Linked DNA regions of Homo sapiens: all the other regions are linked to region 3. Evidence: fine-mapped expression QTL. A gene starts in region 3. Each other region holds a variant in brackets. All regions are shown on one strand. Distances are between the middles of the regions.

Region 1 (8,183 bases), 62 kb after region 3:
TCACTATATTGAAAAAGTACATGTCAATTGATGAAAAGGGGAAAAAAACCAGCATCTATTCCTGATAAAAAAAATAATCTCAGCAAACTAGAAATAGAGGAAGGGAATTTTCTCAAGCTGATAAAGGGCATCTGCAAAAATCCTACAGCTAGCATTATACATATGGTGAAAGGCTAAGTCATGTTATCTCTGAGATCAAGAAGACGACAGGGATATCTACTTTCACCACAACTATTCAACTTCGTACTTGGAGGTTCTAGCCTATGCAGTCAGGCAATAAAAATAAATTAAAGGCATTCAGATTGAAAAGAAAGCAGTAAAACTTTTGATTTGTAAATGACATGATCATCTACATAGAAAAACTGAAGGAATCTACACAACTAGTAGACTAGTAAATAAGTTTAGCGAGTCACAGGTTATAAGGTCAATATACAGAAATCAGTTGTATTTCTGTATAGTAGCAATGAACAGTCCAAAATTGAAATTTAAAAATACCTTGTATTCAAGAGTGTTAGGTGTAATTGGGAAAAAAGAATGGAAAAAAAGAAAAAGAAAAAAACTAGCATTTAGAATAGCATCAAAAAATATGAAATGCTAAAAATACCATTTAGAATAGCATAAAAACATGAAATAGGGATAAATCTGACAAAGGAAGTGAAAGAGTTGTACACTGAAACCTGCAAGATACTGCTAAGAGAAATTAGCCCAAATAAGCAGGAGATACATGTTGTTCATGGGTTGGGAAACTCAATATTGTTAAAATGTCACTTCTCTCCAGATGTATCTAGAGATTCTGTGCAATTCCAGCAGGATTTTTAAATCAAAGAGTTTGTTCTAAAATTTGAATGGAAGTGCAAAAGACCTGGAGTAATCAAAATAACTAATTAAAACAAAGTTGGAGGGCTCACACTGTCTGATTTCTAGACTTAAAAAGCTACGGTTGTTAAAACAGTGTGGTGTCAGTGCAAAGATAGATATATTAATGGAACAGATTGGGGTGCAGAAATAGACCTACACATGTATGGAACATTGATTTTTGACAAAGGCATAAATGCAGTTGTGCAGAAAGAAGGTAGTTGTTTCAACAATTGGTGCTGAAACTATTTAGTAGGCAGAAAGATAGGACTCAGACCTCATACCATATTTAAAAATTAACTCAAAATGGATCACATAGCCAAATGTAAGACCTAAAATTATAAAGTTGCCAGAAGAAAATCTTTGTGACCTTGGGTTAGGCAAATAATTTTTGGATGTTATGCAAAAAGCACAATTCATTTTAAAAAAAATGATAAATGGAATTCATAAAAATTAAAACCTGCTCTTCAGAAGACACTGTTAGAAGAATGAAAAAGACAAACCACAAACTGGAAGAAAGTCTGCAAAGCATATATCTGATAAAAGACTGCATCTAGAATATATAAAGAATTCTCAGAATTTAACAGTTAGAAACAATCCAGTTAAGAGTGGGCAAGATACTCATATATGCATTTCACCAAAGGAGATAGGCAGATGTCAAATAAGCCCTTGAAAAGATGTTAATCATTAGGAAATTGTGTAGTAAAACCATAAGGAGATTCCACTACACAGCTATTAGAGTGGCTAAAATGGAAAATATTGACTATACCAAATGTTGGCAAGGATACAGAGCAGCTGGAACTGCTTGTGGGAATATAAGATGGTATGACTACTTTGGAAAATAGTTTGGCAGGTTTTTTTTTTTTTTTGAGACGAAGTCTCACTCTGTTGCCCAGGCTGGAGTGCAGTGGCACAGTCTCGGCTCACTGCAAGCTCCACCTCCCTGGTTCACACCATTCTCCTGCCTCAGCCTCCCAAGTAGCTGGGACTACAGGTGCCCACCAAGACGCCTGGCTAATTTTTTGTATTTTTTAGTAGAGACGGGGTTTCACCGTGTTAGCCAGGATGGTGTCGATCTCCTGACCTCGTGATCTGCCTGCTTCGGCCTCCCAAAGTGCTGGGATTACAGGCGTGAGACACCACGCCTGGCCTAGTTTGGCAGCTTTTTAAACCAAACTCGAACCAACCATATGATCTAGCCATTTAAGTATTTACCCAAGAGAACAAGAAATATATGTTCATGAAAAGACTTTTGCTTAAATGTTCATAGCGGCCTTATTTGTAAATGGCCCAGACGTGTGGATAAACCAACTGTAGTACATCCATGTAACAGAGTACTACTCAGCAATAAAAAAAAAAAAAAAAAAAAACTATTGCTGTATACAACAGCATGGATGAATCTCAAAGTGATTATGTTGAACAAAAGAAGCCAGACTATAAAGAGCACATAGTATATGATTCTATTTGCACAAAACTCTAGAAAACAAAGCTAATCCATAATTACAGAAAGCAGATCAGTGGTTGCTTTAGCTTTGATAAAGATGTTTAGGGGAAGGGTTGCATGGTAGAGGGAGGGAACCACAAAGGAGCATAAAGCTTTTGGTGGTTACGGTTTTGGTGGTTACAGAGGTGTTCACTATCTTGATGGTTTCATGGGTGTATGTGTATATATATATATATATGTGTGTGTGTGTGTGTGTGTGTGTGTGTGTGTGTTACATTAGGTACTTTAAATATGTGGAGTTCATTGTATGTCATTTATAACTCAGTAGTGAATAAAAAAAGACTGTTTATGTACCAACTGGGGCAGATGTGGCTTAGAAACCATAAAGCACCCAGAAAGGCCATTGGAAGGCTAGATTGCAATACTTGAAATACACTATTGAAATTCAGCGATTATCTTCTACTCTGTATAGGCAAGTCCACACTTGAGGATGTAGAGAAACTGCAGTGTGCCAAGAGAGGAGTGACCAGGCTGACATAGAAATTCAAAACTCTACTGTGAGGAACAGTTGAATGACCTCAAGATGTGAGGTACAGCCTAGGGAGAAGATTTGAGCAGAGTAATGTTGTAGGGCGGATTTGCTCTTAGTAAAATGTATTTGGGAGACCATATAATGTAACAAAAGGATTCGAACTGATCGTGGCAGGAGGTAGAATTCAGACCCATGAGTGGAAATAAAACAAGAAGTCCAATTTTGTCTTGATATTAGGAAAAACAGTAAGTGGAAGCTGACTTTTTCAGAAGACAGCAAGTTTTCTGTTTCTGAAGAGGTATTG[A/G]CATGGACTAGGTGACCACTTAGTTAAGTATTCTAGAAGGAATTCAAGCTTTGCACTGTTGACATATCCTTACATCGATATACCACCATACTTTGCAAGGTGCCTTTGTATAGAGTCCCCCATCTTATTTTGAGATAGAATTGATTCTGGTTTCCCGTGATCCAGATGAAGAAAGCTGTTATTTACTAGGCTTATTACTTTGACTCATTATATTAGAGTCAAAGACGGAATTCACACCTAGCTCTGCCAAATCCATGGTAAAATTATGCCTTTTTCCACTTTATTCATTATGTCCCTGGGCTTTTTCCATCCATTTCTTGTGATCTCACAGACAAAATGATAAATATAACATTTGAGTGTTTATTCCTTTATTTGTTATATGTTGGTATTTGTATTTGTTTTATATGGTACATAGTTACCACATTAAGAATTGTGTATGATACAAATAGATTAGTCTCTTAGGAGACTAATTCTTTTAAAAGAATTCATACAAAACTAATTTTCTTACATTTTAAAAAAGCGGTTAATGTTACCATCCTTATTTTTAGGTAACTAGGGGCAGGGGTGGGGTGGGACTTAGTCTTTCACTGCCAACAACCAAACAGATGTGGTGTATGTGGGGACTATTTACGCACTCTTCGCCCACCACATGCTGTATAAAGGAGGTATGGCTGCCTTGCTCAGCTTATAGGTGGTTCCCTTCCTTACGATGAATGCTTGTGTTCACAGGGTTGAATAGCTATATTCACTCATTTCATGAGAGGAGTAAGTTTGCTGACATATTTTAAGAGGGGGGAAAGGGAGTAGCCTCTTCATAGCATGGCCATTTAACAGTGACTCATGGTTACTAAACTTGTTTACAGTAATCTTGGACACCAGAAGGTTATTAATAGACTTTCCTTAGTCCATGATCATTCAGCTTAGACTATGCAGACATTTTCTTTAGTAAAGAGGTGGGGGTTGGGGGAGGTAGAAAGCATTTATCACTGGAATTAATGTGATAATAGAATTGTTCTTATTATCAAATACTTGGCACCAACAGTATCTGTCAGTTCACTTTTAGATTCCATTTCACATCTTGGTCTTCATTTACTTTGATATAGAACTTTCTTTTTTCAACAAGGTCATTTAATCTCTTCTTGTAGAATGAATTGATATTTCAGGCAGTAAATATAAATGGGTAAATATTTAGAGGACTCTTGTTTAAAATGATTCTTTTGTTAAAGATTGGGTTTAAAGAAACTCAAAAAAAACAAAAAATAATAATTTAAGCCTCATCATTCCCCCCAAATCTGAGCTCTTTAAGGCATTTCTTTTTTTCTTTTTTCTTTTTTTTTTTTTGAAACAGACTCTAGCTCTGTTGCGAGGCTGGAGTGTAGTGGTGTGATCTCGGCTCACCGCAACCTCCGCCTCCCGGGTTCAACTGGTTCTCCTGCCTCAGCCTCCTGAGTTGCTGGGATTACAGGCATGCGTTGCCATGCCCAGCTAATTTTTGTGTTTTTAGTAGAGACATGGTTTCCCCATGTTGACCAGGATGGTCTTGATCTCCTGACCTGGTGATCCTCCCACTGTGGCCTCCCAAAGTGCTGGGATTACAGGCATGAACCACCACACCTGGCCTCTTTGAGGCATTTCTTAACAATAACTAGTTATATGTAAGTTAGAATCAATTCAGTTATGTAAACTAATGAACACAGGTATGGAAAATTTTGCTAAATAGATCCCTTCAAAATTATTTCTAAAAAGATGACTTAACAGTGGTGCGCATTGGAGTTAACGTTTTCCTCATGCATGGTTGCCTTTGTTGTTGTCTACTGTCTTTACTTGCATCATTATCTCTTGCAAGAGATCCCCAGTTTGATTGAATCCACAGACATTTTAGTGCCTCTCTGTGTGGGCAGATAGGCATAGGAGTCAAACCTTGTCCCCGTTCTTAAAAAAGTATATAATCCAGTAGAGGAGATACACATGTAAATAATATAATATAGAGGGACTTGGGGGCGCAGATAAAATTCTGTGGGAACCAAGAGGATAAAGCAGTTCCTACGTCTGTCAGAGACAGATACAGAGATGACAGGTTTGAAGTGACGTTTAAGCTGATTTTTAAGGTTTTTGGCAGGCAAAGTGTGAAAGGGAACAGAATTTGAAACAACCTATGGCATGTTCAGAAAACAGTGACAAGTTCAGTGTGACTTTAAGAGGTGGAGATAAAGAGGAATGGTAGGAAGTAAGACTAGAGAAACAAGCTTTGGTAGAATGAAAAGGGCCTTATAGACAACCTAAGGGTATACTGAGGGGGAGTGCAAGAGGTCTTACGCTATAGAAGTCTTATGTTGCCTTACTTTGTTTTGTTTATTTTGAAATTAATTAATTCACAGGAAGTTGCTGAAATGAGTACAGGAGAACCCATGTACCTTTCACCCATATCCCCAGTGGTAACCTCTCACATAACTATATACAATATCAAAACCAGAGCATTGACATTGGTATAATCCACAGGGCTTGTTCAGATTTCACCAGTTTTACAGTTTGTGTGGATATGCATATAGCTCTATGCAATTGCATCACACTTATCTGTTCTCCAAGTCTATACATTTTATTACTTCAAGAATGTTAAATAAATAGAATCATATAGTGTGTAAACTTTTGAGATGGGCTTTCTTCCACTCAGCATCATTCCCATGAGATCCACACAAGTGGTTGTGAGTGTCACTAGTTCATTGCTCTGGAGAAACAAGTAGGTCATGGTTCCAGGTGCTCTGTCTCACTTCATCCACTTTTTTTCTTCCCCCCCCGAGATGGAGTCTCGCTCTGTCACCCAGGCTGGCATGCGGTGGCACGATCTCGGCTCACTGCAAGCTCCACCTCCTGGGTTCATGCCATTCTACTGCCTCAGCCTCCCCAGTAGCTGGGACTACAGGCGCCTGCCACGCCCGGCTAATTTTTTGTATTTTTAGTTGAGACGGGGTTTCACCGTATTAGCCAGGATGGTCTCGATCTCCTGACCTCATGATCCGCCCGCCTCAGCCTCTTAAAGTGCTGAGATTACAGGCTTGAGCCACCGCACCTGGCCTTTCATCCACTTTTTTAGTTTTACTTTATTCTAACTAGTATATTGGAATTCTACATTGTGTAGTAGGGAAGTGTGTATGAGTGTGTGCGAGAAAGATCTTTGTTTCCTTCATAGATTCTAATTTATTTCTGTATCTATACAAAGTCATGTTCTAATGATGTATATGATGTATGTTCATTCCCCCAAAAAGCAGAAAATACAAGACTATAAAGAAAAAAATTAAGTTTATCCTTAATTCAGTACCACGTGAAATGACTACTGTTAACTTGGTGGGGATTCTCATTCATATTCTAGCTTGTTTTCTCCCTCTCTCTGGGGCAGATAAGTAAATGAGTATGGGGTCATGCTGCTCTGTAACCTGTTGGTGTTTTTTTTGTTTTTTTTTTTTTAATTTTAAATTTTAACATCTTTTCATGTGCATATAGATCTCAATTTTGTTTTTTTTTTTTTAAATATGGAGTCTTGCTCTGTCACCCAGGCTGGAGTGCAGTGGCATAATCTCAGCTCACTGCAACTTCTGCCTCCCAGGTTCAAGCAATTCTTGTGCCTCAGCCTCCCAAGTAGCTGGGATTACAGGTACCTGGCTGATTTTCATATTTTTAATAGAGATGGGGTTTCACCATGTTGGCCAGGCTGGTCTTGAACTCCTGACCTCAAGTGATCGCCACCTTGACCACCTCCCAAAGTGCTGGGATTACAGGTGTGAGCCACCACCCCTGGCCCTCAATTATTTTTAAAGCCTGCCGTGGTTCTTCCATTTTATGGGTACGTAATGATTAAACTAGTTCAGTGGGATAACTTTTACTTCTAATTCTTTGCTGTTGTAAGTAACACTGCATGTACTTACCTTTGTGTACTTGTCTGTTTCCATAGGGTAAATTCCTGAAAGTATAATTCACAGGAAGTTGCAGAAATGAGTCAGAGGCCTTGCACCTTTTAAAACTCTTCAATAACATTTTGCCAAATTGCCCTCCAGTAAAGTTGTACCAATTTATTTTCCTACCAGTGGCGTATCTAAAAGCCTTTGCCTCTGATAAGAAGGAAGAATATTTTATCCTTTTAAGATTGTTACTATTACTATGAAATAGAATCTTTTGTAAGGTTTTTAATGTCTGACTTAGCCATTTGTATACTTCAGCATGTTACTATGTTTGTCTTTAAGTGTGCTTTCTATATTGAGGTTAGAATTGCTACTAACTACTAAAAATTGGGGACAGTGAAGAGGGCAGCCCAGTCTTGTATCTCACCAAGTAAAGTCCTGTCCCTTCATGTGGAAGTAGCCTTCTTGTCACCTTGTTTCCTAACGTAAGGCCGGTTTGGATCTACTGAGTGCTTGAGTCCAGAGGAGGAGTGTTGGTAAGGGCTGTGAGTACTTCAAGGACATTGCATAGAAGCACTAATGGGTATGTGAGCTGTCTTCTCGAGTCTTCTGAAATTGTACTTTTGTATCACTACTTTTTATCAGCAATTGCCTCTAGTGACAGTAAAATAGTGCACTGATAGGTACCGTGGGAATATTGGATTTAAGTCAAGAGAGTTAATACGAAACCTCCTGAGGTTTTGGTGATCTCTGAAAAGGCCATTTGTACTAATGTTTAGCTTACTAATTGCTTATTTTCCCACCCTGTTTTATTTTTTAATGGGAAAGCAGGCAGTGAAAAATCTCATAGCCTTAGTGCTACTTGAAGAGGTTATTATGGACTCTATCCTTAAAAATTTGAAGTCCTGTTACACGTTACTTAACAACAGGGATACATTCCAAAAAATGCATCATTAGGCGATTTCTTCCAGCCTGTTGCTCCTAGGCTACAAATCTGTGTAGCTTGTTACTATAGCGAATACTGTAGGCAGTTGGAACACAATGGCAAGTATTTGTTTATCTAAACATAGAAAAGGTACAGCAAAAATATGGTATTGTATCTGTGGGACCACAGTTGTCTCTGTGGTCTGCTGTTGACCAAGACGTTATGTGGTG
Region 2 (8,183 bases), 71 kb before region 3:
GCTACCCTTTGGAGGCTTTGCCTGTATTCTAATGATGCTGCAATAATAAAAAGTATGTTTTGTTTTGCTTTTTGAGATGGAGTCTTGCTCAGTCACCCAGGCTGGAGTGCAGAGGTGTGATCTCGGCTCACTGAAACCTCCACCTCCCAGATTCAAGCGATTCTCGTGCCTCAGCCTCCTGAGTAGCTGAGTAGCTGAGTAGGGATTACAGACGTGTGCCACCATGCCTGACCAGTAAAAATATTTTTGATACTCCTCTTTGAAATTTCTCTTCGGAATAGATAACATATATTTTTTAATAACTTCAGAAATGGTCAATATTTCTTTTAAGTAAAACTGCTGATAAGAAATAGACAAGATTGGTCAGGCATGGTGGCTCACACTCATTATCTCAGCATTTTGGGAGGCCCAGGTGGGAGGATCACTTGAGCCCGGGAATTTGAGATCAGCCTGGGCAACATAGTGAGGCCTTTTCTCTACAAAACAAATTTAAAAGTTAGCCAGGTGTGGTGGTACATGCCTGTAGTCCCAACTACTTGAGAGGGTGAGGCGGGAGGATGCAGGATTGCTGGAGCTTAGAAGTTCAAGGCTGCAGCGAGCCATGATTATGCCACTGCACTCCAGCCTGGGTGACAGAGCAAGACCCTGTCTCCAAAAAAAAAAGAAACGATTCACATAGCTTATTTTGCACAATATTGTTTTGTGGTTTTTGGTTTTGGGTTTTTGGGGTTTTTTTGTTTGTTTGTTTGTTTGTTTGTTTTTTGAGATGGAGTTTCGCTCTTGTTGCCCAGGCTGGAGTGCAATGGTGCAATCTCAGCTCACCGCAACCTCTGCTTCACGGGTTCAAGCAATTCTCCTGCCTCAGCCCACTGAGTAGATGGGATTACAGGCATGCACCACCACACCCAGCTAATTTTGTATTTTTAGTAGAGATGGGGTTTCTCCATGTTGGTCAGGCTGGTCTCAAACTCCCGATCTCAGGTGATCCACCCGCCTCAGCCTCCCAAAGTGCTGGGATTATAGGCAGGAGCCACCACGCCCAGTCACAATATTGTTTAATTTAATCATGTAATTTATTCATCACATTAAATCCAGAATTGCTTTTTTGTTTTTTTGAGACAGCGTCTCACTCTGTTGCCCAAGCTAGTGTGCAATAGTGTAATCATGGCCCACTGTAACCTTGAACTTCTAGGTTCAGGCAGTCCTCCCTCCTCAGCCTCCCCAAATAGCTGGGACTACAGGCATACACCACCACACCTGGCTAATTTTTTTTTTTTTTTTTTTTTTTGAGACGGGGTCTTGTTCTGTCGCCCAGGCTGGAGTGCAATGGTGCAATCTTCACTCATTGCAACCTCCGCCTCCTGAGTTAAAGCGATTCCCCTGCCTCAGCCCCACAAGTACCTGGGATTACAGGCACGCACCACCATGCCTGGCTAATTTTTTGTATTTTTAGTAGTAGTAGAGACAGGTTTCACCTTGTTGGCCAGGCTGATCTCGAACTCCAGACCTCGCAATCCACCCGCCTCAGCCTCCCAAAGTGCTGGGATTACAGGCATAAGCTTTTTTTTTTTTGGCGAGTCAAGACCTTACTATGTTGTTGCCCAGGCTGATCTTGAACTCCAGGCCTCAAACCATCCTCCTGCCTTAGCCTCCCAAAGTGCTGGGATTAAAGGCATGAGCCACAGTGCCTGGCTGTGAGAATAGTTTTAAGTAGATGTTTGTTGTTGTCATGAGTTCAATTGTGTCCCCAAAAAAAGATATATTGAAGCCCTAACTTCCACTACCTCAGAACATAACCGTTTTGGAAATAGGGTCACTGCAGATTAGTTAAGGCAAGGTCATACTTGAGTAGGGCGGGCCTCTAATCCAATATGGCTGATGTCCTATAAGGGAAAACTCTGTGAGCACAGACATATGCAGAGCGAAAATAATGTGAAGACACACGGGGAGAAGATGGCATGAGACTGGAGCAGTACAGCTGCAAGACAAGAAATGCCAAGGGTTGCCGGCCGGGAGTGGTGGCTCACACCTGTAATCCCAGCACTTTCGGAGGCCAAGGCGGATGGATCACTTGAAGTCAGGAGTTCAAGACCAGCCTGGCCAACATAGTGAAATCCCGTCTCTACTAAAAATACAAAAATTAGCTGGGCATGGTGGCACATGCCTGTAGTCCCAGCTACTCAGGAGGCTGAGGCAGGAGAATCCCTTGAACCCAGGAGGCAGAGGTTGCAGTGAGCTGAGAGCGCGCCATTGCACTCTAGCCTGGGTGACAGAGGGAGACTCGATCTCAAAAAAAAAACAAACAAAAAAAACCCCCAAGGGTTGCTAGCAACACCAGAAGCTGTGAGAAACAAGGAAGCGTTCTCCCCCAGGGAGCACCACCTGCTGACGTCTTTAGCTCAGATTTCTAGCTTCCAGGACTGTGAAACAATAAATCTCTATTATTTTAAGCCACCCAGTTTTGGGTACAGTCTGGTGCCGAGTAACAATGTTTAGGTTAACAATGAATCATATACACAATGCTTGTCCCATAAGATTATAATGAAGCTGAAAAAATTTTTATTGTCTAATGATATCATAACCATTGTACATTGTTGTGCAATTACTTTATTTTTTATAAGTTTACTGTAGCCGAATGTACAGTGTTTATAAGGTCTACAGCAGTGCACAGTAATGTCCTAGGCCTTCACATTCATTTATCAGTCACTCACCGACTCACCCAGAGCAACTTCCAGTCCTGGAAGCTCCACTCATGGCACGTGCCCTATAGAGGTGTACGAAATTTTATTTTTATTATTTATTTATTTATTTATGTATTTATTTTGAGATGGAGTCTCACTCTGTCCCCAGGCTGGAGTACAGTGATGTGATCTTGGCTCACTGCAACCTCTGCCTCCCGGGTTCAAGTGATTCTCCTGCCTCAGCTTCCCAAGTAGCTGGGACTACAGTCGCCTGCTGCCAAGCCCGGCTAATTTTTTGTATTTTTAGTAGAGACGGGGTTTCACCATGTTAGCCAGGATGGTCTGGATCTCCTGCCCTCGTGATCCGCCCACCTCAGCCTCCCAAAGTGCTGGGATTACAGGTGTGAGCCACCACACCCGGTGGTATTTTGTATATCTAAACATAGAAAATTACAGTAAAAATAGGCTATAAAAATAAAAATTGGGCCGGGCGTGGTGGCTCACCCCTGTAATCCCAGCACTTTGGGAGGCCAAGGTGGGCAGATCATGAGGTCAAGAGATCACGACCATCCTGGCCAACACAGTGACACCCTATCTCTACTAAAAACACAAAAATTAGCTGGGCGTGGTGGTGCATGCCTATAGTCCCAGCTACTCGGGAGACTGAGGCAGGAGAATCTCTTGAACCTGGGAGGCGGAGGTTGCAGTGAGCCGAGGTAGCGCCACTGCCCTACAGCATGGGCAACAGAGCGAGACTCCGTCTAAAAAAAAAAAAAAGAAAGAAACAAAAGAAAACAGATATACAAAATACCATTGTGCTACAATTGCCTGCAGTATTCAATACAGTAACATGCTGTCCAGGTTCATAGCGTGGGAGCAGTAGGCTACACCATGTAGCCTAGGTGTGCTAGGTACCAGCAGTAGGCTACACCATCTAGATTAGTGTAAATACAACCTATGATGTTCACACAATGATGAAATCTCATGATGCATTTCTCAGAACGTATCCGTTGTTAGGCGATGCATGACTGTACTTTGTTACGGCAGCCCCAGGAAACTAATGCAGTTGTCTACTCAGCATCCATTCCCCTCTTCCTAACAATACCCAAATTTTCGTTTGTACGTTTACCCCTTCTGCATACAGGAAACCATTGAGATGGCTTAGCCAATCAGCATTTTTTATTTTATCCTCCATAAGTCGTTGGTTTGGAGGTGGACACATCTTTAACTGGGCCGATCGGAGTGGCTCTCAGCACTCTCTCTTAGAATAGTGGGACAGAGGGCTCCTCGAGAAGGATGTGAGCCACTAGACATGAACCAGAAAGCATAAGGCTTGGATTACATCTGGCAACAGCCATCTTCAGATGCAGCCAACAGGGTGGGCAACAGAGCAGAGAGACTCAAAGGTCCTGGGTCATGGGAGATGTCTTAAAACCGCAAGATCAGTCTGCCCTGAAACATTGAATGTCTTACAGTCAAAGGCTTTATAGTTAAACCAGTTTAACTGAGATCTGGCATTCTTGCAGCCCAAAGCTTCCCAGCTGACAAGCTGGCAACACAGGGCAGATTGTACCATCTCAAGCCAAGTGAGGGGCTTTAAAAGAATCCACTGGAGGCTGGCTGCAGGGGCTCGTGCCTGTAATCCCAGCACTTTAGGAGGCTGAGGCGAGTGGATCACCTGAGGTCAGGAGTTCGAGACCAGCCTAACCAACATGATGCAACCCCATCTCTACTAAAAATACAAAATCAGCTGTGCATGGTGGCACACGCCTGTAATCCCAGCTACTTGGAAGGCTGAGGCAGGAGAATCACTTGAACCCGGGAGGTAGAGGTTGCAGTGAGCCAAGATCACGCCATTGCACTCCAGCCTGGGCTACAGAGCGAGACTCCATCTCAAAAAATAAAAATAAATTTAAAAATTAAAAAATAAGGAATCCCTTGGAGAGATAGACACGAAGGACTCGGGACTGAAGCCACACCCAAAGAATCTATAGCCTGGAGGCCATGGCTGGAACTCACCCTGCTTGGCAAATACAGGAAGAGACATGACGGTGGTGGAAAGGGCCTGCACTTCCAGAGCCTGGTGGGACAAGGATGGATGTGCATCTCCCAGAGGCCAGAGATGGGCTCGCTGAAAGGAGCTGGGCCAGGTCTCCTTGAGAGAGACTCTGCCCAGGAGAACTTGCTGCAAGTAAAGCAGGGGAATGAACCAGAAAGCAGGGACC[C/T]TGCATTGGTGATCAATTGGGCAGCAGGAGGTGTCATCCAGTTCCCTGGAGTTCCCACTTAAAATTACAACAGAGCAGGTCAACCAAAGCCCTTCCTGCCCCTCACCTCTCTTCCCCTGCCCACTCTAGTCCTGCAGAGACCAAAAGAACAGGTGGCGAAGGAGACCAGAGGTTGAGAGTCAGAAAAGCGATCAGACCACTCCCCACAGTTCCTGGACTAAGACAGGCCCCAGCTGAAGCAGGGTAGAGGGCGTTAGTAGGATAAAATATTGAATATTAGAAGAGATAAGACTTTTTTTAATTATTAAAAGGAGTCTGTTCTTATAACTAAAAGGTCCTGGAAAAACTGTGGGCCATCCCCAGATTTTAACCAGGTCTAGTGAGCACTGTTGTGCCCACATCCCGGGCATTCAACCTACGCAGGAAGGCCTTGTATTGCCAATACCCGAGCCTCTGCCCAACAGCTTTTATCTGGCCAGGGAGGGTGCTCAACGCTTGAGCAAGGCAAACAGGAAGTGCTGGAGTGGTCAAGTGCCTGGAAGTAGTCTTCAACCAAGGAGGGACAGGAAGTCATTGGGTAAGTACCACAGCTTCCTGCCCCTCAGTCGGGATAATGCTGTGACCTCTGGTCTGAAAACTCACTCTTTAATGGCCCATTCCCTTTCCTATCTTACTTCCTCACTATTTATACCCAGTTCACGTCTCAGGGTCTGTTTCCAGGGACACCCAAACCAAGACAGCAGAAATAGACAAGATGATGTCAAACAGCAGGTTTGAGTGGGCAGGAGGGCAGGGGACACGGGAGCGGGGGTGGGATGTTTCCTGTCACTTGTCTATCCAATAAACCAATCACTCAATTATTTTACTCATAATCAAGTTTCCTGCCTAAAACCTGGGGACAAGAGGCAGTGGGAGTTTTTCATTCTCTTCTGCATGTTCACCACATCTTGAAACTGAAGCTAAATACAGTTAGATACTCATCACATGGCTCTTCTGACTTCTTCCTGCCTCTTGAACTTTCCGTTTCCTCCCATGGTGCCTTTAAGAGTGGGGCAAAGTGCATACAGGGCTCGAGCTCACATGAAGTGAGCTTATAGAGCTGGGGTACTTTGGCTGATCTACGTCAGGGTAGCTAGTTTCCAATAGCCCAAGGGCCTTACTTTGTTTTTTCCTTTTTTAAAAATTAAAGTGTAATCTACCTACAGTAAAATTCAGTCTTTTTTCTTTTTTTTTTTCTTTTTTGAGACAGGGTCTCACTCTGTCACCAAGGCCAGAGTGCAGTGACACCATCCTGGCTCACTGCAGCCTTGACCTCCCTGGGCTCAGGTGATCCTCCCACCTCAGGCTCCCGAGTAGCTGGGACCACAGGAGCTCACCACCACACCCAGCTAATTTTTGTATTTTTAGCAGAGACAGAGTTTCACCATCGTGGCCAGGCTGGTCTCTAACTCCTAGCCTCAAGTGATCTGCCCACCTCGGCCTCCCAAAGTGGCGGGATTACAGGCATGAGCCATGGTGCCCTTGCGCCCTACCCTTTCTGATAGTTTCTCAAGTGCAGGAGTAGGGTGAGGCAAGAGAAGAGGAGAGTGAATGCCTCCTCACAATTTTGTGTCTTAGATACCTCTCTTGCCTCATTCCAGTCCCAGCCCTGGTTGTTCTACATAATACTTCCTTAAAATTTTTTATTTCTGGAGCATGCATGGTGGCTCACACCTATAATCCCAGCACTTTGGGAGGCGGGCAGATTTCTTGAGCCTAGGAGTTCAAAACCAGCCTGGGCAACACAGAGACCTTGTCTCTACAAAAAAATCTTAAAAATTAGCCAGGTATGGTGGCACACGCCTATAATCCCAGCTACTCAGGAGGCTGAGGTGGGAGGATCACTTGAGCCCCAGAAGTTGAGGCTGTAATGAGCCACGATTGCACGACTCCAAAAAAAAAAAAAAAATCATTTCTGGCTGGCACAATGGTGCACACCTGTAATCTGAGCTATTCAAGAGGCTGAGGCAGGAAGATTGCTTGAAGCCAAGAGTTCAAGACTGCAGTGTTCTATGACTGTGCCTGTAAAGAGCTATTGTACTCCAGCCTGGGCGATACAGCAAGACCCTGTCTCTAAAATTTGAAAGAAAGACTGGCCAGGTGCAGTGGCTCACTCCTGTAATCCCAGCACTTTGGGAGGCCGAGGCAGGCAGATCACTTGGGATCAGGAATTCGAGACCAGCCTGGCTAACATGGTAAAACCCCATCTCTACTAAAAATATGAAAATTAGCCAGGTGTGATTGTAGGTGTCTGTAATCCCAGCTACTCAGGAGGCTGAGGCACAGGCATGAGAATCACTTGAACCCAGGAGGAGAGGGTAGCAGTGAGATGAGATCGTACCACTGCACTCCAGCCTGGCTGACAGGGCGAGACTCTCTCAAAAAAAAAAAAAGGGGAAATTTTTTTTTTTTTTGAGACGGAGTCTTGTTCTGTTGTCCAGGCTGGAGTGCAGTGGCACGATCTCGGCTCACTGCAACCTCCAACTCCTGGGTTCAAGGGATTCTCCTGCCTCAGCCTCCCAAGTAGCTGGGATTACAGGCATGCGCCACCACGCCCGGCTTATTTTTGTATTTTTAGTAGAGACGGAGTTTCGCCATGTTGGCCGGGCTGGTCTCGAACTTCCTACATCAGGTGATCCGCCCACCTCAGCCTCCCAAAGTTCTGGGATTATGCATGTGAGCCACTGCGCCCGGCCGAGAAAAATTATTTCTACTGGTTTGTTTCTAGTTTGTAAAAATCCCATTGATTCTTATATATAGACTTTGTATCCAGCAACTTTTGCAGCCGAGTCTTAACTCACAGAATAAAGGGTGGGACGTTCCTGCTTCGGTTCATGCCTAAGAAAGCTCAGTGACAGGCAGATTCTGAAAGTGATGTTCCAGACTAGAAAACATGGAGTGTCTGTGTTTTCAAGGATCTGTGGGCTTTCCCCCAAAGCTTTCTATTGCCTCTCTCCACTCCTCAGTCACTTACCAGGCTCCCAGTGCATCATGGGCAAATGGAAATCTGGGAAATGGAACTTTAAGTTAGAGCCAGACTAGCTGGGAGAAGGGCAGGCACGAGGAGAAGGAGCGGTGGCTCAGCTTCTGTGAGTCCATGGAGGCCAGAAGTCCATCCTCCAGTTCCCTATCTACCCCCCTATATTTTCTCATGCTTTATTCTCATTCCTCATTACAAAAGGGATGTGAGGTGATGCACAAAACTACCTAATTTGGAAAGATAAAATTAATATAGAAG
Region 3 (8,183 bases):
CCCAGGCTGGAGTGCAACGGCACAATCTCGGCTCACTGCAACTTCCAACTCCCAGGTTCAAGCGATTCTCCTGCCTCAGCCTCCCAAGTAGCTGGGATTATAGGCATGTGCCACCACGCCTGGCTAATTTTTTGTATTTAGTAGAGATCACCTGAGTGGATCACCTGAGATCTTCTTTCCTTCTCTTTCTTTTTTTTTTTTTTAACATAGTCTCCCTCTGTCACCCAGGCTGGACGGCAGTGGTGTGATCTCAGCTCACTGAAACCTCCATCTCCTGGGTTCAAGCAATTCTCCTGCCTCACTCTCCGGAATAGCTGGGATTACAGCCATGCAACACCACGCCCTGCTAATTTTTGTATTTTTGGTAGAGATGGGGTTTCACCATGTTGGCCAGACTAGTTTCGACCTCCTGGCCTCAAGTGATCCACCTGCCTCTGCCTCTCAAGGTGCCAGGATTATAGGCATGAGCCCCCTCACCTGGCCAGATTTTCCTGGATCTCTTCCTACCAAACTGGCTCCTCCCTCTCAGGGTTCTTTGCTGGTTCCTTACCATTCCCTGACCTGTCATTGTTGGGGGACTGGGCTTAGTAGTAACACTCACATCCTAAAGGATCTCACTGAATTCAGAGGTTTTACCTACTCTGAGAACCACCTAAATTCTGTCTGTGGCCCAGACTTCTCCTCTGAAGTCTTCTTTTTTTTTTTTTTTTTTTTTTTTTGAGCCGAGTCTCGCTCTGTCACCCAGACTGGAGTGCAGTGGCGCAATCTCAGCTCAATGCAACCTCTGCCTCCCAGGTTCAAGCAATTCTCCTGCCTCAGTCTCCAGAGTAGCTCGGACCACTGGCGCACGCCACCACACCCGGCTAATTTTTGTATTTTTATTAGAGACGGGGTTTCACCATGTTAGTCAGGCTGGTCTCCAACTCCTGACCACAGGTGATCCGCCTGCCTCAGCCTCCCAAAGTGCTAGGATTACAGGCGTGAGCCACCGCGCCAGGACTTCTCCTCTGAACTCTTAAGTCCAACTTCCAACTTGGGTGTCCAACAGGCAGCTCAAACTTTGTATGTCCCTAAGTAAATTTCCAAGTTCCTCCCTTCACATCTGTTTCTGCTTAAATTTTCCCCATATCACCAAATTGTATTTTCCAGTTGCTTGAGAAAAAAAAAAATTAGAAATCAGGAAAATCCTTTTAGCTTTACCCTTTATTTATTTATTTTTTTTCTTGAGTCAGGGTCTCACTCTGTGGCCCAGGCTGGAGTGACAGTGGCACAGTCACAGCTCACCGTAGCCCCGACTCTCCAGGCTTAAGTGATCCTCCCACCTCAGCCTCTGGAGTAGCTGGGACTACAGGCACATGCTACCACGCCTGGCTAATTTTTTTTTCTAGAGACAGGAGTCTCACTATGTTGCCCAGACTGGTCTCCAACTCCTGGCCTCAAGTGATCCTTCCTCCTCTGCCTCCCAAAGTGGTGGGATTACAAGCGTGAGCCACCTTTTATTATTATTATTATTATTGAGACTGAGTACTGCTCTATTGCCCAGGCTGGAGTGCAGTGGCACAATCTTGGCTCATTGCAATCTCCCCTTACTGCAACCTTTGCCTCCCGGGTTCAAGCGATTCTCCTGTCTCAGCCTCCCGAATAGCTGGGATTACAGGTGCCCGCCACCATGCCCAGCTAATTTTTGTGTTTTTAGTAGAGACAGGGTTTCACCATGTTGGGCATGGTGATCTCGAACTGACCTCAAATGATCCTCCCACCTTGGACTCCCAAAGTGTTGGGATTCCAGGCGTGAGCCACCTTTTAAACGTGTCTACAGGTGATCATTTTACTCTTCTACTGCCACCACCCTGGACAGAGCCTTATCTTTTTTTTTTTTTTTTTTTTTTTTTGAGATGGAGTCTCCCTCTATCGCCCAGGCTGGAGTGCAGTGGCGCGATTTCGGCTCACTGCAACCTCCGCCTCCCGGGTTCAAGCAATTCTCCAGCCTCAGCCTCCCAAGTAGCTGGGGTTATTTTTGTATTTGTAGTAGAGACGGGGTTTCAACATACTGGTCAGACTGGTCTCGAACTCCTGACCTCAGGTGATCCCCCTGCTTCGGCCTTCCAAAGTGCTGGGGTTACAGGTGCGAGCCACCACGCCCGGCCGGACAGTCTTATCTTTTGGCTGGCTGATTTCAACAGGCTTCTCGCTGGTCCCCCTGCTGAAACCCTCAGGGCTTTCAGTCTGGTCCTCATACCACAGCCACAGGGATCCTCCTGAAATGTCATTCCACGTCCTTTCTCTGCTCGCAACCCTTCAAATTGCTTCCCATCTCCTTGAGAGTAAAAACAGGAAGTCCTAACTTTGGTTGGTAGGGCCGCACTTCTTCCTCATCTCTTCCCCTATCTGGGGCCGCTTTCAAGCCAGCAGATTCTCGCCTCAGGGCCTTGGTCCTGCTATTCCCTCTGCCTTTCCATACAGAAAGCTCCCAGGCTCTCTCTCTCCAGGAAGCTGCTCCCTGAATGAACACTGTAAATAACAACACCCTGCTTTCTCTCCCCTCCTCACCCAGTGGTGTTTTTAACTGTCCAGTATTTGTTTTTTTGTTGTTGTTTTTTGTTTGTTTTGTTTTTGTTTTTTGGAGATAGTCTCGCTGCGTCGCCCAGGCTGGAGTGCAGTGGCGCGATCTCGGCTCACTGTAACCTCCGCCTCCCGGGTTCAAGCGATTCTCCTGCCTCAGCCTCCTAAGTACCTGGGAATACAGACGCCCGCCACCACGCCCGGCTAATTGTTTTTTGTATTTTTAGTAGAGATGGGGTTTCACGGTGTTGGCCAGGCTGGTCTTGAACTCCTGACCTCGTGATCCGCCCACCTCGGCCTCCCAAAGTGCTGGGATTACAGGCGTGAGCCACCGCGCCTGGCCCAATTGTCCAGTATTATACATACCTGTAGGTTTATTAGTCAATTATTTGTCAACTGTTTGTGCTAGGAGCATGGACTGTTTCGCTCACTGCCCCATCCCTGACGTACAGGAGGCGCTTAAAAAGTAGTTCAGTTACACATTAAAAACAAAGAAACAAAAATACACACATATGGCATTTGTATGTGCCAGGCTCCGTTGTCAGAGCTTTGCAATGCACTGTCCCGTTCATCCTCAGAAGCCCGTGGCTGGTACCACTATATTATTACACACTTTTTTTTTTAATGTGTGAGGAAATCCAGGCACAGGGACGTGAAACAGCCCATAGATAGCAAATGGTGGAGCAGGACTTAAATCCAGGTTGCTGATTTAAATAGGAATATTCCCATTAATCTGGAACGTTCTGGCACTTGTCCCCCTGGATGCTGTGTCCCCCTGGATGCTAAAATGAAGCGATCTGCTCCAAGAAAGTAAGAATCGGTCTGCACAAAGTGGGATCCCGGCCTCTCGCAGAATTAAGCTTGAAGAGTTGAGGAAGTGGTCGTTGAAAGTGGGCGTGCGATTCCCGCAGTAAGAGCGCTCAGGCGGAGGAGAAAGGGCTGAGCCCCGCCTTGGAAGCTGCGGCGGAGGAAGAGGAACTGCGGGGCTTGGCTTCTGCTTTTCTCTGCGGCCCCTCCCGCTCGGGCCTCGCGCCTACTTGCGGCGCCCTGAGTCCGCCGGCCGCTCGGGGGCGCCCGAGGCGGAAGGGGGCGTTGCGGCACCGCCCGACGTCGCGTCCTCGGCGGCTGCGCAGTGCGCACGTCAAAGCCGGGCTCGGGCCGCAAGCGGGGCGAGGGGTTCGGGGAGCGGCGCGGCCTGGGAGACACAGAGCCTTCAGGCGCCGGGGCGGGGGCACAGGCGAAGACTAAGGCGGCGCCGGGCCCCACAGCAGCAGCCGCAGCCCAAGCGAGCGCAGCAGCGCGGCGGCAGCCGCGGGAGCCCCTGGGCAGCCGTCCGCCCGCGCAGCCGCCGCCGCCGCGGGAGCCCGTCGCCGGGAGCAGGAGCGGGCGGAAGACAACGGAGGGGCCGAGCGTCCGAGCCACTCCGCGGGGACCGAACGAGCAGCCCGAAGCGGCGGCGGCCGAGGACGGGGACAGCGACGACGCGGAGGCAGAGAAGGGAACGCCCGGCCCAGCCCCGTGAGTGACCCCCGGCCGGCCCTGCTCGTGGTGCGGACGCCTGCCCGGCTTCCGCCTGCCCCGCTGGGCCCTCACCGGCCCCGGGGCTGCCTCCATTTTCCTGGGTGGCGGCGGCCCCGGCCCAGCTTGTCCCCGGAGCCCCCGGGAGCAGCCGGGCCCAGCCTGCCCTCTCCGCCCGGCTCGGCTCCGGTCCCTCGCTGAGACGCTCCCTTTGCCTTCGCCGGCGTGGGGCGCCCGGGGGCCTGCAGTCCAGGCGCTCCTGCCTCTCCCCCCGTGGTTCTCTGGCGGGGCTGGCGGCGCGTGGTGGTCCGGGCCGGAGTCGGGCGGGCGGGGAAGTGCGGGCCGGGTCAACTGTCACCGGCTGCACCCGGGCTTCAGCGCCTCGCTCCCGCCCCTGGTAAACTTCCTGTTGTCGGGAGGCAGATACCAGCTTTGTGACCAATTCAGGAAAATGCCTAACTGATTTCTGGTTAGGAATTGGGCGGTCGGAGCGTTCTGGAGTTCAATGGAACCACCCCAAGCGCAGACTGCGTGCAGGCGCCGTAGTCGGCCCGCACCGGAGGGATTCAAAGGTGAAGCGGGCCCCGGTCCCCTCCCCCGAGGAGCTTAGGCTCTGGTGTGAGAGATAAGACGAGAACACAAATAACTGCGATACCGGGAAGGAGGTGATAAGTCCTGTGAAAGAACGACGGAGTGCTAGAACGGCACCCGGAAAAACCGAACCGATCACTTCTGCCTCGCAGAAACCTGGAAGGCTTCCTGGGCGGGGGATGCTGAGCAGAGTCTTGAAGGCCTGATGGGATTTAGGAGAGGAGGATTGCAGAAGAGGTGTGTGGAAGGGGTAGCAAAAGCGAGAAGACAAAGCCTAGAAATCATGGATAATTCCGTTTGTTGGCATGGTGCAGGGGGCGGGGGGTATTGGGCTAAAGAGGTATTTTGGGGCCAGATCCTTGAATGCTGTAGAGGAGCTATTTGAGCAGCATTCTAAGAGAAACTTAGAGCTCATTTCTCAGTGACTCATGAGCCCGGAAATGTAGGCTAGGGGATATTAAAGGCGCTCTTGTGAAAGGAGAGAGGAGGAGGCCCAGTCAGGAGTTGACATTCTGTGCCTTGAATGTAATGCAGTTTCAGATCGATTTTGACAGCTTCCCAGATAATCAAGTAAATCCATGCCCAGGCTAAGCAAAGTACCTTTGCAGAAAGCTTCATTAGATATCAGGCTCTTAAGAGGTAATGGAAAGGTGTCTATAAAATAAGCTCATCTGCACACAGAAGGTGTTTCTATTTGTGCGTTCGCTACAGTGCATAAAAACTTCTTGCACTTTGTATTAGGCGTATGTACTTTGGAATTACTAAGCTAAACCTACATTCTTTGAGGTGGCATTTGTGTAAAATAACATAAATTGATGATTTTTAAAAAATGGTTAGTAATATTCTGCTGTAGAAAGCCAGACGTAGACCTTTTACAGAAAGGTAAAACTTTGTTTTTATATTTTATTTTATTATGAAATCTTTATAGTAGAGCCAGAAGTGAAAGTGTTTAGCTTTATTTTGTAGTTTGTTCAAATTGTTAGGAAGTAATTAGCAGCTGTATTCGAAATCTAGAATATACGATCTGTGAAAGCAGCTTAGGGCCTAAGTTTTGTAAGCTTGCACTTGTTTGCGTGTATGACAAGTGAATGCCACCTTTTTGCAGTTTAAAAATTTTCTGCTTTTCAAAATAATACATGATCTTTGTCAAAGCTTCCAAAATTCAGGGAGTGCTAGAAAATCTTTAAAACATTTTCTATAATCTTACCACTTAGATTTGGTTACTGCTAACATTTTTGCGTATTTTCTTTCCAGTCTTTTTCTGTGTATTTTTTCTTTGCATAATGAAATATATTGTATGCATATGTATACACACACACATCTCTTATTAAGCTTTTCTTGTCATTAAATATCTTCATATAAAAAATTTTTACTCAACAATGGAAGTCTTCTAAGCATGTTATGTTTTCCTGACAAGGTTGTATTATTTACCTCAGATGAAATGCAGTAGTTAGGCTTAATAACTACTAGTGTGGACAGAACTTTTTCTGAAAGTTTCTTGTTTGAAGTATGTTTCTTTCTCTGTAAGACTTGGATCCTCTTGCTTGTTGAATAAAGTTTTTCTTGGCAGGATGTGTGTTGTCATGAGGTGTGGAAGAGGAAGAAAGCACACAGATCTCTGCTATAGGAGTGAATGGACTTTTAAAGGGATGTTGTCAAAAGATTACTGTCATGGCTGGTATACCATCCCCCACAGACGGCGATGCAGTGTCCCTTCCCACTCCCCACTTCGCTCCTGAAAAATAGTCTCTACACTAGGGCCATCCATATAGGTTAACTATTTTTTGAACATGACATCACGAAGACTCAGGCTGGATATAAGCATAGAATATTTCATGAAATGGTTTGCTACTATAACAAATGGGTGGTATTTGCCTTTTTGGTTTTGTTTTGTTTTTTGAGACAGGTTCTCACTCGGTCGCTCAGGCCGGAGTGCAGTGGTGCGAACATGGCTCACTGCAACCTCAACCTCCTGGGCTCAAGCCATCCTCTCACCTCAGCCTCCTGTAGACGGGACCACAGGCTCGTACCATCACATCCGGCTAATTTTTGTATTTTTATAGAGACAGGGTCTTGCCATGTTTCCCAGGCTGGTCTTGAACTGCTGGGCTCAAGTAATCTCGCCTTGTCCTCCCAAAGTGCAGGGATTACAGGCGTGAGCCACCACGCTTGCCTGGATATCTGTTTTTTTATTTCAAGGCAGCTTACTTCCCTTCATTAGCATTTTCTACTTCAGGTTCTTGTACTAAGTCAGTTTTTTCCCATGTATTTTACATTCTAAGGTGTATTAATAAGATCTCTGTTTCTGTTTCATCACGTATGAAGTAAGATGCTGAGTAAGGCTGTATACGTTTCCTAAAGTTAATGTAGAAGAACTGCTAAGAAAGTCCAGTATAAGTATGGGGTTTGGTAACTTGATTTTATTTGAATGTTTGTATATTGCAAATACGTATGCCACACAGGGTCTTTATTACCTTGGAATATTTACTAAAGTTTTCTGTTTTGATCAACTTTTGTGGGATTACAGATTTCTTTAGTTATTGCCATACTTTCCCAAGAGCCTTTTTTCCAGATTGATGACTAATCACTCACAGTTTAGCCATCTGCCATGAAAATACACAAATCCAACCTCCCCAACCCCCAAAAATAAAATTCAGTAGTAGGACGAATTTTGTTTCAGGTATTGTCTTTTGTTTACCTTTCTGGCATTGTTTCTATTCCAGCTCTATTTTATTTTTTAATTTAAAAAATGTTTTAATTAAAAGAGATGGTGTCTCATTCTGTTGCCCAGGCTGGTCTTGAACTCCTGGGCTTATGCCATCCTCCTGCCCCAGCCTCCCAAAGCACTGGGATTATAGGCCTGACCACACTGGCCTCCAGCCCTATTTTAAAAGGTCAGGCCGAGCGGGGTAGCTCACTCCTATAATCCCAGTGCTTTGGGAGGCCAAGGTGGGAGGATTGCTTGAGCCCAAGAGTTGGAGGCCGATCTGAGCAACATAGCAAGACCCTATATCCACAAAAATAAAAAATTAGCCGGGCATGGTGGTGTGTGTGCCTGTTGTCCTAGCTACTCAAGAGGCTGAGGCAGGAGGGATTGCCTGAGCCCAGGAATTTGCAGCCTCAGTGAATTTTGATCACTGCATTGCAGCCTGAGGTGACAGAGTGATACCCCATCTCAAAAAATGTATATATAAAATAAAAATAATAAAAATAAAAATTCATTTTCCTCTTTTTCATTGCTTCTTTTAATTGGGCATTTGATTTTATGAACGTCTTTACATGTTACAGAAATGGGACTGTGGAAGGTGGATTAATTTGGATAACAGAAAAACTGGTAAACATTTTTTTTTACACACTTTGATAAAATTGTGGGGAAAAAATATCAAATCTGAATCTCTGGGTTAAATTACTTGTGACTTGTTATTACTGAGGTGTAAAGATCTGGCATTATTATGAAGTCAGGTAATCTAAATTTGCATAGCAATTTAGTCATCAGTATCTTTTGGCCATTG

Evidence for each region. PIP is the estimated chance that this variant, and not a neighbour inherited with it, causes the effect.
Region 1: its variant is the best candidate, but not a certain one, in a credible set for the expression of CAB39 in whole blood (INTERVAL, PIP 0.54).
Region 2: its variant is the best candidate, but not a certain one, in a credible set for the expression of CAB39 in whole blood (TOPMed, PIP 0.63).

Annotation. Positions count from the first base shown.
Region 1 is chr2:230,770,779-230,778,961 of GRCh38, forward strand. The region is part of intron 2 of CAB39 (calcium binding protein 39); the gene reads left to right. Among named protein-coding and RNA genes, the nearest start is that of CAB39, 62 kb to the left of the region's middle. RefSeq lists an enhancer at 3,816-4,110. The variant A/G (reference allele first, on the strand shown) is at 3,136.
Region 2 is chr2:230,638,244-230,646,426 of GRCh38, forward strand. No RefSeq gene overlaps it. Among named protein-coding and RNA genes, the nearest start is that of LINC01907, 58 kb to the right of the region's middle. RefSeq lists an enhancer at 6,220-6,389. The variant C/T (reference allele first, on the strand shown) is at 4,907.
Region 3 is chr2:230,709,151-230,717,333 of GRCh38, forward strand. It overlaps CAB39 (calcium binding protein 39), which reads left to right and starts at 3,692. Exons shown (of 9, transcript NM_016289.4): 1 at 3,692-4,080. LOC124907996 (formin-like protein 16) reads right to left here and starts at 4,176. Exons shown (of 4, transcript XM_047446832.1): 1 at 2,929-4,176. The coding sequence starts at 4,176. The coding sequence ends at 3,418. RefSeq lists a silencer at 3,464-4,403.